2 separate regions of the Homo sapiens genome follow, and region 2 is linked to region 1. Evidence: fine-mapped expression QTL. A gene starts in region 1. The other region holds a variant in brackets. All regions are shown on one strand. Distances are from middle to middle. Region 1 holds the start of SGF29 (SAGA complex associated factor 29). Region 2 holds the start of SULT1A2 (sulfotransferase family 1A member 2).

Evidence for each region. PIP is the estimated chance that this variant, and not a neighbour inherited with it, causes the effect.
Region 2: its variant is the best candidate, but not a certain one, in a credible set for the expression of SGF29 in skeletal muscle (GTEx, PIP 0.54).

Annotation. Positions count from the first base shown.
Region 1 is chr16:28,552,633-28,555,536 of GRCh38, forward strand. It overlaps SGF29 (SAGA complex associated factor 29), which reads left to right and starts at 1,288. Exons shown (of 10, transcript NM_138414.3): 1 at 1,288-1,465. RefSeq lists an enhancer at 1,257-1,576 and a silencer at 1,597-1,716.
Region 2 is chr16:28,596,841-28,599,744 of GRCh38, forward strand. It overlaps SULT1A2 (sulfotransferase family 1A member 2), which reads right to left and starts at 210. Exons shown (of 8, transcript NM_001054.4): 1 at 157-210. RefSeq lists enhancers at 148-442, 2,076-2,610, 2,611-2,904. The variant T/A (reference allele first, on the strand shown) is at 1,157.

The sequences.
Region 1 (2,904 bases):
CCTGACGCCCACAGAAAGAACTGCAAGTGTGATGGAAGAAAATGATGCATTAATTTTGGGGTTAACATAGTTTCAGTGCTAACGCCTGAGATTCTCTAATAAACAGAAAAATACTGACGGGGCTGAGGTTGGTGGCTCATGCCTGTAATCCCAGCACTTTGGGAGGCTGAGGCAGGAGGATCGCTTGAGCCCAGGAACTCAAGACCAGCCTATGCAACATAGCAAGACCCCCATCTCTACCAAAAAAAATTTAAAAATCAGCAGAATGTGCTGGTGTGTGCTTGTAGTCCTAGCTACTCAGGAGCCCTGATGGCACCACTGCACTCCAACCTGGACAACAGAGCGAGACCCTGTCTCAAAGAGAAAAAAAAAGAAACATGTGATGGCCAGGCACTGTGCTAGGTACTAGGAATACACAGGTGAACACAAGATGATCCCAATCTCATAGGACTTGCAAGTTTATCAAATAATCAACAAATAATTACAGACATTTGTAGGTTATGTAAGAAACTTTAAGATACCAGGATGGCTTTCGATAAAATACCATTGAGGCTACATGTCCATTGCACGTCCATATCCTTAGTACTTTCCTGAGAAGATTCCCTAGAAGTGCGATTTCTGGGTCTAAAGATCTGCTTGTTTTTTGTTTGTTTGTTTTTTTGAGATGGAGTTTCCCTCTTGTCACCCAGGCTGGAGTGCAATGGTACAATCTCCAGTCACTACAACCTCCGCCTCCTGAATTCAAGCGATTCTCCAGCCTCAGCCTCCCCAGTACCTGGGATTACAGGCACCCGCCACCACGCCCGGCTGATTTTTGTATTTTTTAGTAGAGACGGGGTTTCACCATGTTGGCCGGGTTGGTTTCAAACTCCTGAACTCAGGTGATCCGCCCGCCTTAGCGTCCCAGTGTTGGGATTACAGGCGTGAGCCACCGCGCCCGGCCTGTTTTTAATTAATTTTTTAACAACAGACTTTTATTTTTTAGGGCATTTTTAGGTTCACAACAAAATTGAGCAGAAAGTACAGTTTTCATATTACCCCTGCGCCCACCCACCTCCAGCAAGCAGCAATCTGTTCGCTTTCAAGTTTTATTTATTTATTTATTTATTGCATTTTGTTTTAAATAGAGTCTGGGGAAATGGGAGAAAACGCTGAAAACGCACAAGCACTTTGGTTGGTTAAATTAGGGTTCCGCCAAGAGCCGGAGCGGTGTGCCAAGTGAAAACTACATTTCCCACGGGGCAGCGGGTCACGTCACAGAGGAACGACTACGCATGCGTGCAAGGTCCTCCGCGCGCGACTACGCTCATAAAAGGAAAAAAAAGCGTGTGCGGTTCTCGACGTGCCGCCAATCTTCGAACGCAGGTCTGTGATCATCCGCAGACTCCGAAAAAGGGTTCGAGGAACGCGCCTGCTCCCCTCGTCGCAGTTTCCAGCCCGACGAGCTTGTTTTGTCCCGGACTCGGTAGGTGGCGACGGGCCGTGGCCTGAGACCTCCGGCGAAACGCGGGAGCGAAGGGCTGAGTCCTCCCTCCGCGCCGCGGCTCCCGACCTCCCTGAGGCGGCGCTCTAGGGGCGGTGCGCACGCGCTCTGGGCGGGAGGGGGGCGGGGCTCGTGGGGGTGGGGGCGGGAGAGGAGGGCGGGGCCGGGGCTCGGGGAGGGCGGGCCCTGCGCCCGGCCGCTCGAGGTCTGCGCTTGCGTGCTTCCATCCCCGGCGAGGGTGGGAAACAGCGACACGCTGGGCTCGGCACGGACGCAGCTTCCAGGTGGGGTACTCGGACCCGGGTCACGAAGATGCGGACAGAGGATGGGCCCCGAACTCCAGCACTTATTTTATGATTTGCACAAAAATTTTGTATATATATATAGTTCTTAACAAGATACACTAACAGCTCGTCGTTTGCCCAGGAGGCTCAACCTCCCGCCTCGGCCTCCCAAAGTGTGGGGAGTATAGGCGTGAGCCCCCGCGCCCGGCCAAAAAATGCCCGTCTTAAGAACAACAAAACAGCCTCCTTCACCCTCGCTATCCTCCAGTTACCTCCTCCTCGGCTCCGGTTTGCAGCCAAAGGCCTTAGTCTACCCTCACTAATGCCTTTTCTCCTCCAAGTCTTGAACCCTTGAGCCTCTAGTCAGGCTTTGGTCTCCACCACTCCACTAAAAAGGCTTCTTGTCAAAGCCACCAGTGATCTCTAGGTGGCCAAATGCATTGTTAAGTTAGGTCTCAGTCCTGTTCAGCATTTGATGCTGTGGATCACTGCCCCTCCTTGAAACACTGTTTTCATTTGGCTTGCTGAACGTTCTCTTCCTTTGCCTCTGCTCTCTCTGGCTTCTCCTCTGCTGATTCTAACCTAGGCATCATCTCACATTTTTGTTTTTATTAGAGACACGTTCTCTGTTGCTCAGACTGGAGAACAGTGGTGTTATTACAGCTCACTGCAGCCTCAAACTCTTGGGCTTAAGCAGTCCTCCTAACCAAAGCCTCCCCAAATGCTGGAATTACAGGCATGAGCCACCGCAATCCCAGTTTCACATTTTAAATGTAAATACTGGCCAGGCGCGGTGGCTCATGCGTGTAATCCTAGCACTTTGGGAGGCCGAGGTGGGCAGACTGCCTGAGCTCAGGGGTTTGAGACCAGCCCGAGCAACGTGGTGAAATCCAGTCTCTTCTAAAAAAAAAAAAAAAAATTAAAAAATTAGCCGGGCGTGGTGGTGCACGCCTGTAATCCCAGCTACTTGGGAGGCTGAGGCACAATAATCACTTAAACCCAGGAGGTGGATGCTGCAGTGAGCCAAGATCGTGCCACTGCACTCTAGCCTGGGTGACAGAGCAAGACCCTGTCTCAAAAAAGAGTTCTAGAGGTGGAAGAAAATCCACATATAAGTGGACCTGCACAATTAAAACC
Region 2 (2,904 bases), 44 kb after region 1:
AAAGGAAGGGAGGGGGATTCAGGCCGGCCGGGGTTGTCTGAAATGGGATATCCATGGGGAGAGGGCAGGGATAGCAGAGGCCTCGGCTTCTGGAATGTTGGAGCCACAAGCTGAGCAGGGTGAGGGCGTCCTGGGCCATTCCGGTGTGTCACTCACCTGAGCTCTTGGGAACCTGGCCTTGTGCCCTCCTCGCCCGCAGTGGCTGAGTGTGGGTGTTGTGTGGGGAATGCAGGGGTGTTGTCTGTGCTGAGGGTTTCTTAGGTCAGTGTGGGAGGGATCTGGAGCCGGGGCTGGACTTAGATTTGCTTCCGGAAGGAAGGGGTAGGGTTGGGGGTGGGGGAGCTTCTCTATTACCCTCCTTAGTTTGCCAGCTGGAGACAAGCTTAAAGTGATCTCCAAAGCCACGACTGGGTTTGGTGTGTAGAAAACAGAAGAATGAAAGGGGAAAGGGCCCAATGGTGGGTTTGTTTTTGTGGGTTTTTTTTTTTGAGCTGTCACTGGGCTCCTGACCTGCCCCTGAACTCCAAAAGACAAGCTTTCTCTAATTGACCCAGGCAAGAGAGGGGAGGGATTGGAGGAGAAAGATGGGATAGGCAGGCCCTGGAAAGGTCACCTACCTGCTGGCTCCAGGCCAGTCTTGAAGGTGCCAGGGGTCCTGGCCCAGTGCAACCCACAGGCCTCCAGCAGCCCATGCACTCCAGGCTCTGACCACAAGGCCAGTCTGGAGTGATGCGTGTGGGCAGAGTGAAGGGGCAGGGGTGGAGCAGAGCATGGATCCATAGAACAAGAAAGAACAAGGACACTGCAGTCCCATTGCCCTGGGAGCCAGCCCCAGCTTCATGGCTCCCTGGGGACCTCACAGAACATCGATAGAAGATCCTAGAAGAACCACAGCCCCTGGCAGGTACTTTTCTTTCCATGGGTTTGAAGGAGGCTCCACAGACAGAGGCCAGAGGAGGTTGAGGCTTGGAAGCCACAGGGCCCCGTGGAAGGAGTGCATCCCCCCACCCTCCTCGTTCTTTGTCCTCACTATTTAAAGTCCAGGGTCAAGCTGGGCACGAGACAGGTAAACAACCATCTGAGTAAAGGTGAGTCTCCCAAGCCTTCCCAGGGTTGCGTGAGCTCAGAGGCAAGCGGGGAAAACTGAGGCATGGGA[T/A]TTCCAGGCAGAGGAGAGGCTGCTCCCCTGCTAGGGCCACAGGCCCCTCCTCCCTCCTCTGTGCCCCTGAGGAATCCCCATGACTGGCAGGTCCTCCGGCTACTAGCTCCACCCCTGCCCTCAGCAACCTTCAGGAGGCCCTCTTGACTGAGACTTTGTATTGCACTCTAGTGAAAACCAGCCGGACCAGCAGGGGGTGGCACAGAAAAGAGGCGAGAATGTGAGATTAATAGAGTGCTAGCAAGACAACAGAAAATCCCAGGCAGCAGTTTCACATGACCAGAAGAAGGAAACTTGAAATAGCTGCATGTGCCAAGGGCCAATAAGTCCCTGAAAAATAGGATGAGGACCAAGCTGGCTGCGACCAACCAGAAGCAACATGGCGCTGTATTTGATGTAGGTTTCACCTAGGATCTCACTGTACAATCAGTAACATATGAAACCGTACACCCACCAGTGCCAAGACGGCTCCAGGAACACCTGTATTTGGGTGTAAATTGTGGCACCACGGTCTTGAGAAATCTTTACCTTTTCCTGGAATCTTCATGAATATACCCCTCTTTAGTTGAAGAAGCCCATAAAGGTCAGCCCCACACCTTGTAGGGCATGAGACACTCTCTTGAGGACCCCCACGTTCCTCTTCTTCAGTGAGTCCCTTTACTCTGCAGGAAATCTGCCTACGTTCATGACTTTTGCACTTGTCCTTAAATTGTTTCTGGCTAAGGTGCCAAGAGCCTGGAGAAGGCCTGGCACGGTGGCTCACTCCTGTAATCCCAGCACTTTGGGAGGCCGAGGCAGGCAGACCACCTGAAGTCGGGAGTTTGAGACCAGCCTGACCAACATGGAGAAACCTTGTCTCTACTAAAAATAGAAAATTAGTCAAGCCTGGTGGCACACGCCTGTAATCCCAGCTACTTGGGAGGCTGAGGCAGGAGAATCGCTTGAACCCGGGAGGCGGAGGTTGCGGTGAGCCAAGATCACGCCATTGCACTCCAGCCTGGGCAACAAGAGTGAAACTCGGTCTCAAAAAAACAAAACAAAACAAAAAAAAGCGTGGAAACGGGCTGAGGTCGATGTCCCACCGGTCTTTGATGACCTCCCCTAGGCCACCAGTATCTGGAGGGGATTAGGGACACTGAGCTCCAGCAGGGCTATCCAGTGTGCCTGCAGAAACAAGGTTGGTCACAGGCAGCCCAGGACAGGGAGTGGGGTAGGGAGGCTGGGGCCAAAGCCCACTCACGTCTTCTAATTCCGAGTCTTCCACTATTTCCCCCGTGCTCATCCATCACAGCCAGATCAGGTCACCCAAAGCAGTGACGCCTCACAGCTACCAAGGCATGGGGCCAGAGAGAGAGACAGAGTCAGGCATCACAAGCCCCCTCCAGGCTCAGCCCTGAATACCAAGATCAGGACACGGCTGCCCCGGCCTGGATTGCACAACTGGGCACCCTCTTCCCAAAGCTGGACCAGGCTGGGGCCGGGGGACTGCACTCAGCTAGGGCATTGGCCCTCTAGGGGCAGAAGCTGCCCTGGTTCTTCCGGAAGGAACTCCTCTCACAGGCAGATCACGTGGGCTCTTAGCCAACAGCCAGGGTTGGGGCAACACAAGGGCCCCGCTTCATCCTGTCCCAGGCAGCAGGCAGGTAAGAGACAAGGAGGGAGAGGCAGCTGGCAGCAACCCCTCTATGCAGCAGGCACTGTTCCGGGCATTACACAGCTCCATCCCGTGAGGCAGAGGTGACTGTTAT